Linked DNA regions of Homo sapiens: region 1 is reported to be linked to region 2. The links are microRNA targets in miRTarBase. Many come from high-throughput screens and were not tested one by one. Region 2 holds a microRNA gene; the other region holds the end of a gene's coding sequence.

Region 1 (4,058 bases), not on the chromosome of region 2:
CTTTCCTTAACTATGTAACAGATGTACCAAGAGTTATTCTATGTTTCTAGATTATGTATTTCCTTTCATATTGAAATGATGCATATATTTCTTTCCTGTGTACATATACCCACCAAACTTTTCCAGTAGTAATGAAACTCTCAAAAACTTTCTAAAGTAATGTGATGCTAGAAAATGCTAGTAAAAGCTAACCAATATACAATATATGCATGGAGTAGGAAGTTATAATTCCTTCTACTTGTAAATGTGACCTAATTACATTCTGCCTTCTTAAATTTCAAAAATAACATATATAAGCTGGTCTATCAAAATGTTTTAAACACCTAATTATCCACAATATAGAATTTGTTTCAACTTTAAACTAAACAAATGTATCTGCCTCTGAGCAGTAAACAATGGTTAGTGATATTTAGATAATAAAGTTAACTTCACAGAAACACCCAAATCTTGTATCTAGTAAGGATTTATTATAACAAATATTGAATAATTTATTATTTAAATGGTTAGAATAAAGTTCAAGGGAAATATAAGCAAACTACTTCTTTCTCTAACAATCTGAAATACATGGGGGTTTAAACCTTCTATATTTTTGTCAAAATAGTAATTAACCATAGATGACAGATGCTGCTCCCTAGTCAATGGAGGGTCTCAAATTTTACTCTGCATCTCATTGGGAAGGAAATATAAATTTTTAAAATAGAATTAACTTAGGGAAAGGCATCAGTGCTGCAACTCTTAGCACCAAATGTTTTTTCTTGGAGCACCAAATGCTCTAAGGAAAACATTCCAAGTATCAAAGTTTTCAGATAGATAAATATTTATGGATCAAATCCATAAAGAACAGACATTGTTATGAAATATATATAGATGCCTTCAAAACTTTCTTTCTAGGCAGAGTAGACACATAAGTTAGGAGTCATTTCCCACTTAATTGTTTTTGCAACCTTATGCAACACGAATGGATTATGTGCAAGACTTATTCATTTTTACACAGAAAGTAGATCTTGACTGACATGGTGTCCAGAAAATCAAACAGAAGCTATTTCTCTATATAAAATATAAAGTGCCATTAAATTTATAGAAATGGCTTCATTTTAATCTTTTTTTGGTGGAAAAGTATAGGGATTTTTGATCTGGTCTTTTGGTAAGAAAATAACACTCTTCAAAACAAATTCTTTTCAACTGCTAGTTAGTATAATTGGAGAAAAGCATAAAACAGATCTGGTTCATATCTTTAAGGGCAATGAAATTCCATCAGTCTTTGAACTTTATTAATGATATTTTTTCAGTCTACATATAGACCACTGCCACTTCCTCTTCATTAAGAGCTCTTCATAGTAGCTGTATAACAATCTACAGAAAGTTATTTTTCCATTTAAAGGCAGAGGTTAATTTTCATTGTTCATGCAGCAAAATGTAAGTATGCTACATAATTCTAGAGAAATTTGAAGTAGTTACCAAAGAAACATAGCCTTAGCTTCTGTAGTATTCTCAATGATATTAAAATAGCAATAATTGGTGTGCACTCATCAGAAATGAAGTGCCCATTTAAGGAAGCCACATTAGGTCTTGTTCCAGATGCAAATGCAGAACAAAGGGATACAATAACTCATTGCAGAAAGGGTTGGGTATACTATATCAGGCTTCCAAGTTACACTTGCATATGCAGCTACTGCCAATAGTATCATCTGTGAACATGAGGGACATTTTGGAACTGAATAGAATTCCATCCCTGAAACTAAGCATAACAACTGCATATTCAACCCAAGAAGGCATTAGCTTTATGTGGGCTTAAAGAAATGGTAGCACAGGCATAGGTAAAATTTTTATTTATGAATGTGTGGACACATGACTTTGGATCCAGCCAGCCAGTGACATAAATAAACTTGAGCAAAAGTTTCAAGCTAGAGGATATATATGTATAGAAAATTATATATTTGTGTGTGTGTGTAAGGCCTCTTGGAACAGTGCCACAAACCTGGACACCAACCAACAGAATACTCCCGTCCTTTGAAATTTCCATTAAGAGCACAATGGGGGTAATTATACCAGGATGCTCCAATCGCTCTTTCCATCTTGTGCACTCACATGCCCGCCAAACATGAAATGTTCGCCTTCTCCCTTCCAATGTGATGGTTGTTGAACTTATTTTTAGTGTCATTTGATAAGCCTTTGTGCTCACAGAGAGACATCCCACTGACCCAGCCACTGGTCATTGTCTATACCAGTTCACATCAAAGCAGGCGCACTTTGTCAGGTTTCCACTCGAATATCCATTTCGCATCTGAAGTACAGTATCGAAAGTGACTAGATCATTTGAGCTTTTTTCTTCAGCTGCTGCCTTCCTCCCCCACGGTGTTTCTGCTCACGCTAACATAATTTGGCATCGTCGACGTGACACGATGGTGGTTTTTCTAAAAAATTATAATACATACATCGTCAATGTTTTGTGATAGCGACCCTCCAGAAGATTTAATTTGTAAATTGAAGAAAGGTGGTCTTTTTCCTCTACTGAATCATAACCAAGGTAGAGTGCCCCTCAAAATCCAAGTAATGCGCATACAGTAATAGGTCATTCAATGTCAAAAGGCATAAAAAAGATGAGCAAAATCTTCACAGGCTGCTGCTTGCTGTTGCTTTTAATTATATTAATTAAACTTTGAAATTTTAATGCAAAGAGAGTTGCTGGCTTGTGACGCTGAAGAGCCCTTGGAGACTTGAAGAAAGAAAAAACCCTGAGCGGAAGCTTTGTGGTTACTGCTTCCTTTAAATTAAAAGCAAAACAAACTTCTAGGTATGTTTATGGATATTAATGCTTTATGCACTACTAAATCCTAAACACAGGAAAAGGGGGAATCTACTAGTCACAGGGACAAGTTCGCAAAAAATGAGTCCCTTGCACTACACTCAAGATCTCTGGCTAGAGGCCTTCTGTGGAATAACGCTCTATTAATTTTCTTGTCCCGAGTGCATAATGAAAGAAAGGTGTCTTCGAAAACTAAAGGGCAAAATCTTGCTTGCTACCAATACCTTGAGGCATCTTGTCTACATTTTGTCATGCGTGTGCACTTTTCAGTGTTAGAATGACAAGATTTTCCAGTCAGAAACTTCCCATAAGGCACACTGTGATAGAGCACTTGGAAGGATTCTGTGATCTGACATAGCTATAAGGCAATGGACTTCTTTATTTGCTTAGCCTGGTGGGAAATTTCATACTCTGCCTATGGATAAAGATCTTGCCACATAAAAACACAAGTGCCATGTTTCCATGTAAAAAACTCCTGTCTCCCATCATGGCTAGTTGTTTTGTGGTCCTTGTTTTGGTATCATCTTCGTGTTGTTGCTGTTGTTGCTTTTTCCTCTTCTACACATTCAAACAAACTTTCTTGTACAAACCATAGTCTGCAGGTCAATGTTCCTCTTTATTTTCAATGTCATAAATCATGAGTTACCACTGAGTTTCATCACCTCCCATGTAGATGGCAGAACAAGTGTTTAGAAATGTTTGGTGCAAGCAAAGCAGAAGGCAGAGAAAACATTTCCCGACTGAGAGGAATTAAGCTGCTCTTCCAAAAGCTTCTGAAATGCACTTGATTTTTTTCATTTGGTTGAAAATCAGCTATGTGAAAATGTGCCATCTTCGTACCTTCTTGGTCTTCCTGCTTCCCTTTTACTGAGATGGAACTCGGGAGAAGTTTATGCACCGGCCCTGAAGAAAGAAATAAATCCATATTGAAATATTGAAGCCATTATTTAAAAAAGCATGAGAACATCTAGTTTTCCTACCATGATAATAAATGATTACCCAAGGAAAGTACCATGTTAACTTGAGACATGAAGTCATAATTTTTTTTTCTTGGGTTAAAGCATGATGGTTCATTCAGATCTTTTCCACAGTAAGTTCACCTATGAGATGGTATGGTATAATTAATATGGAAAAACAATTATGGAAATAGAATGTTACTATTATCTAAAATACAGCATTACTATCACGGCCATAAAAATATCAAAGCCACAACCCAATATACTTCTTTATGTAATGAATTAAAATGAAAATA
Region 2 (4,069 bases):
TCCGTCTGCTAACCGTCAATGTTCACTGTCTCCTAGGGGGACTTCCTGGAGGAGGCCAACTTTGGAGAACAGGCATTGACATTGGGTCTGCGCTAGCGTGTGGTACTTGAAGATAGGTTATCCGTGTTGCCTTCGCTTTATTTGTGACGAATCATACACGGTTGACCTATTTTTCAGTACCAAATCCCGCCTTGGAGGGCTTCCTGGAGCGGAGTCTTACTTCAGGGTGTCAGCTCCTCTCCAGGGTAAGGAAGGGGACCATTGACCATAGCCGACCCAGCAGTGTGCCCTGGCCCTAACCCTGTGTGTGCCCCGTCCTTGGGGAGGTTTCTAGAGATGGTGCCACCTTTGGGGAAGAAGTGGAGCTTTTCCTATCAGAGCTACTCTGTGGTACTGGTGGAGAGGTCTTCCATGATGCATTCGATTTATTTTTTGACCAATCCTACATAGTGGACTCTTTTGAAAGCATTAAATCTAGCCTTAAAGCACCCTCGGGTGGTGCCGAGTTTAGGAACTAGAACTGGTGTCTGAATGCCTGAACGCACGGCGAAGCTGACAGTGTGCACACTCTTCTTGGTGGGTCGTGCACCTGCAGGCGTCCTGCTTGCTTACCATGGCAGTTTCCTCGAAAGAGGCGGCAGTTCCCTCATCGGCTCACTGCATGTTTGACAAGACACCGTCTTGCTGTCTTCCCTGCTGCCCTCTCTTCATGTATCACAGATGGTGCTCTGCAGACCTCTCTGCTGTGGCACTTCCCTCCCTGAATGGCTTCCTGCAAGAGGTGCTAATTGCAAGTAAGGGATGGAGTGCGGCCCGGACCGCAGAGCTTATTTCGTGGGTGGTGTGTTGCCACCTTCCTGACTCTCAGTATCCCGTCCGTCCTCAGGCCTGCTGCTGGGACGCGCTGGAAGCGAGCACCCAAGTCAGGTACTCGAATGGAGGTTGTCCATGGTGTGTTCATTTTATTTATGATGAGTATTACATGGCCAATCTCCTTTCGGTACTCAATTCTTCTTGGGAAACGTCACGAGGGGAAAGCCCAGCCGGCACCTGCGCAGGGTAAGGAAGTGGATCACCTCCGCATGACAGGTGCTCTCTGTGTGACTTACATCACTTGGCTCATATCCCGGCCATCATTAGGAGGAATTCCCCGAAATGATGCTGACGTTTTAGTTGACATGGTGGTCTTCTAGTCGCATCCTTGAAGACTCGTCAGTGAATAAACCACATTTAGTCAACCTTTTTAGGTGTGAAATCATCTTGGCTGTGTGGCACACTTTAGGGAAAGGAACTCCTGGCTGAATGGAAGACATCCACATTACGCCCTCAAATACCTTATCTTCTGGGTGACCTCTGGGAAGCAAGGGGTGAAGGGGGTTTCCTCAGCAGTGAGAATTAATGTTGTTTAAAGACACATTTCCATGGCACGACTCGGTTATTCCTACTGCAAGACGAGAATTGTTAATAGCATTTATTACTACCTTATGTTGCCAGCTGTGTGCCCTTGGAAAATCCCTTCACCTATCAGCTCTCTGGGCCTCAGTCTCTTCCTCTGTAAAGCAGGGTTAACAGCGGAGTGGAAACGTGCTCTTTGTGAAGTGTCTAGACAGCGTCTGGCACGTGGCTGTAGGATAAGCATTGTTTCTGAGGATGGTCATTATATGAATGTTATGTCATCTGCACTCATTGTCCTCTCGCCACTAGAATGGAAGCTCCCTGAGGGCAGAGTCCTTGTCTGTTTTGCCTGGTGCTGTGTCGCCAGATGTGCACAGTAGGTGTGATGCTGAATGAATGAATAGGCAGCGTGACCTGTTTTCTTGGTTGAACTCTCTTTGAGGCCTCCTGGAATGGAGTGCATGGAGTACAGTCACCTGAGCCTGTGCTGTCCCTGTGACGCAGCCCCACCCACCCTCTGAGGATGCTGCGCTGGACGAGGAGTCGCCAGCCTTCAGGTCGGGTCCTCCCTCAAACCCCTGTAGGCTGGACTGAACACGGTCACATGGTTCATTGGCAGCCCCCTTCTCTGTGTGAAATCCTGCTTCAGAGACTTCCAGAGGAGATACCGGCTCTGGAGGTGGACCTTGGTGTTCCAGCCCCTCTAGGGTAGGTGACCAGGGGCTGACTCTAGCTCGGGCTGACCTGTGATGTGTGTGTGCATAGCCTCGCCCCCACTGCCTGCTCCAGGGCTACAGAAGCTGGTCCATGACCAACCATGTTCTGACCACTGCCTGGGGGGCTTCTCGGAGGTAGAGAGAGAGAGAGAGCAAGAGGGGAGAGAGCGAGCCAGCAAGCCAGCGAGCCTGCAGCTGGAGTCAGCAGGGAGGTCCCGCAGGCAATGCCGCCTTTGGTGAAGAGGCATCTCGGTGTGTTCTTGCCCGTGCTGATGTTTGACCCTTGAGCAGAGGTTGCCCTTGGTGAATTCGCTTTATTTATGTTGAATCACACAAAGGCAACTTTTGTTTGAGTATCAAATCCTGCTTGGGATGGCTTCCGGGACCCAGTGGCAAGCTCAGGGGCATCTACACCCCTCCCGTGAGCAAGAATGGACGGGGTAGACGTGGGTGGTCTGCCCTCTGCGGTCCTCTGCGGTGGATGAGAACAGATGTCGCTCAGAGAACACAAGCTTCATTCATGATGGGGGCGGGGCTCGCGGCCCGGGGAGGATGGCGTTGGTGTCGCGTCGGCTTTAGCTCTTACCCTGGACCCTGTCTCTTTACATCACCATTTTGGCTGTGTTGATCCCAAAGACATTTTGACTCCACCATTTTTTTTTCGGAAGGTATTTGACCTCGCGGATACACAAAGAGCTCACACTTGGCAGGGTCTGTGACGAGTCTGCAGCCCCAGACCCCCGTCTAGCTCACAAGCACTGTGCTTCTTTCTGCACCTTTCCTTGTCTCTATCTTTCTCTTTCTATCCCCCAACCAAACATTGTTCCCAATTTTCTCCTGGGTTATGAAACAAATAGAGGCTATCAGTATCTCATCCCATTTGTATTAAATAATACTGATAAAAATAATCAACACAAAATAAAACTAAAAACAGCTGAAACGGCACAGTGCTAAATGTGTTCAGTTGACTACAAATTGGCAGAGGAATCCAATTTTCTTGACAACATTTCAGCTGTGACATTTGACCTGGGGAAATAGCAAGCTGCCGACGTGGCAGCCATGGAAGGAAATTCACGGTGGCGGCGGTGATAAACAGTGATATTTGATGTAGACAAGAACACATTGAGGAATCAAATCTTCATGCAGATTTTTAAATGGAAAAAATTGATCCTAATGAAAATGATTTGGGGAAAATAACAAGGGAAATAAGAGAAATGAAAACAGCTCAACAGCGCGGTCAGGAAAGCTAAACAGGGAATTGGATTAGTATAATGGCATTGGCTCTGAAAAACACGTTTCTATGAATATCAGTGTTGGTACAATTCTTGTGAAGGTGGTTACATTTGTGCGTGTTTACAGTGGAGTTGGTGGGGTCAGTAGGAACCTAGGGTCAAAAAATGGGATACAGTCTCCCCCTTTATGCAGTTGATCTTTTCTTGCTGCCCCAAACCTTCCCGAGAGCTTCCCGGAAAGGTGTGCTGACTTCAGGCGTGACACACTGGTAAGGCGTCCTCCCGGGGATCTGGGTGCATGTTGTCCCCAGAGCATTCATACGTAAGTGACAGGCATCACCTGGTCTCCCTCCATCCCCACGGAGGGTTCTGGGTGAGACGCTGACTCCGGAGGGAAGCAGAAGTTCTACGGTCAGTGGGGTCTGGTCTTTCAGGACAGTTGCTTCTGTGAACTCAGAAAATCTGAGACAGCTCTTAGTTAATTTAGAAAGTTTATTTTGACAAGGTTGAGGATACACCCGTAACACAGCTTCAGGAAGTACTGTGGTCAAGGCACAGCTTGGCTTTATACATTTTAGGGAGACATGAGACATCATTCAGCACATGTAAGAAGTACATTGGTTTTGTCTGCAAAGGTGGGACAACTTGAAGCGAAGGCAGGAAGGAGGGAGCTTCCAGGTCACAGACAGGTGATACACAAATGATTACATTCTTTCGCGTTTCTCA

The links. The annotated mature microRNA hsa-miR-377-3p reads AUCACACAAAGGCAACUUUUGU and lies in region 2 at 2,439-2,460, shown strand. An mRNA with a match to its seed (bases 2 to 7 or 8) in the 3' UTR can be bound and repressed. Matches are read on the target gene's strand: a 7mer-m8 pairs with bases 2 to 8, a 7mer-A1 pairs with bases 2 to 7 and ends in A, and an 8mer does both.
Region 1: miRTarBase lists ANTXR2 as a target of hsa-miR-377-3p. The part of its 3' UTR that is shown has no 7-base or 8-base seed match.

Annotation. Positions count from the first base shown.
Region 1 is chr4:79,903,759-79,907,816 of GRCh38, forward strand. ANTXR2 (ANTXR cell adhesion molecule 2) reads right to left here. Exons shown (of 17, transcript NM_058172.6): 17 at 1-3,709. The coding sequence ends at 3,671. Among named protein-coding and RNA genes, the nearest start is that of PCAT4, 78 kb to the left of the region's middle.
Region 2 is chr14:101,059,656-101,063,724 of GRCh38, forward strand. It overlaps MIR377 (microRNA 377), which reads left to right and starts at 2,395; the gene lies at 2,395-2,463. It overlaps MIR154 (microRNA 154), which reads left to right and starts at 100; the gene lies at 100-183. MIR496 (microRNA 496) reads left to right here and starts at 918; the gene lies at 918-1,019.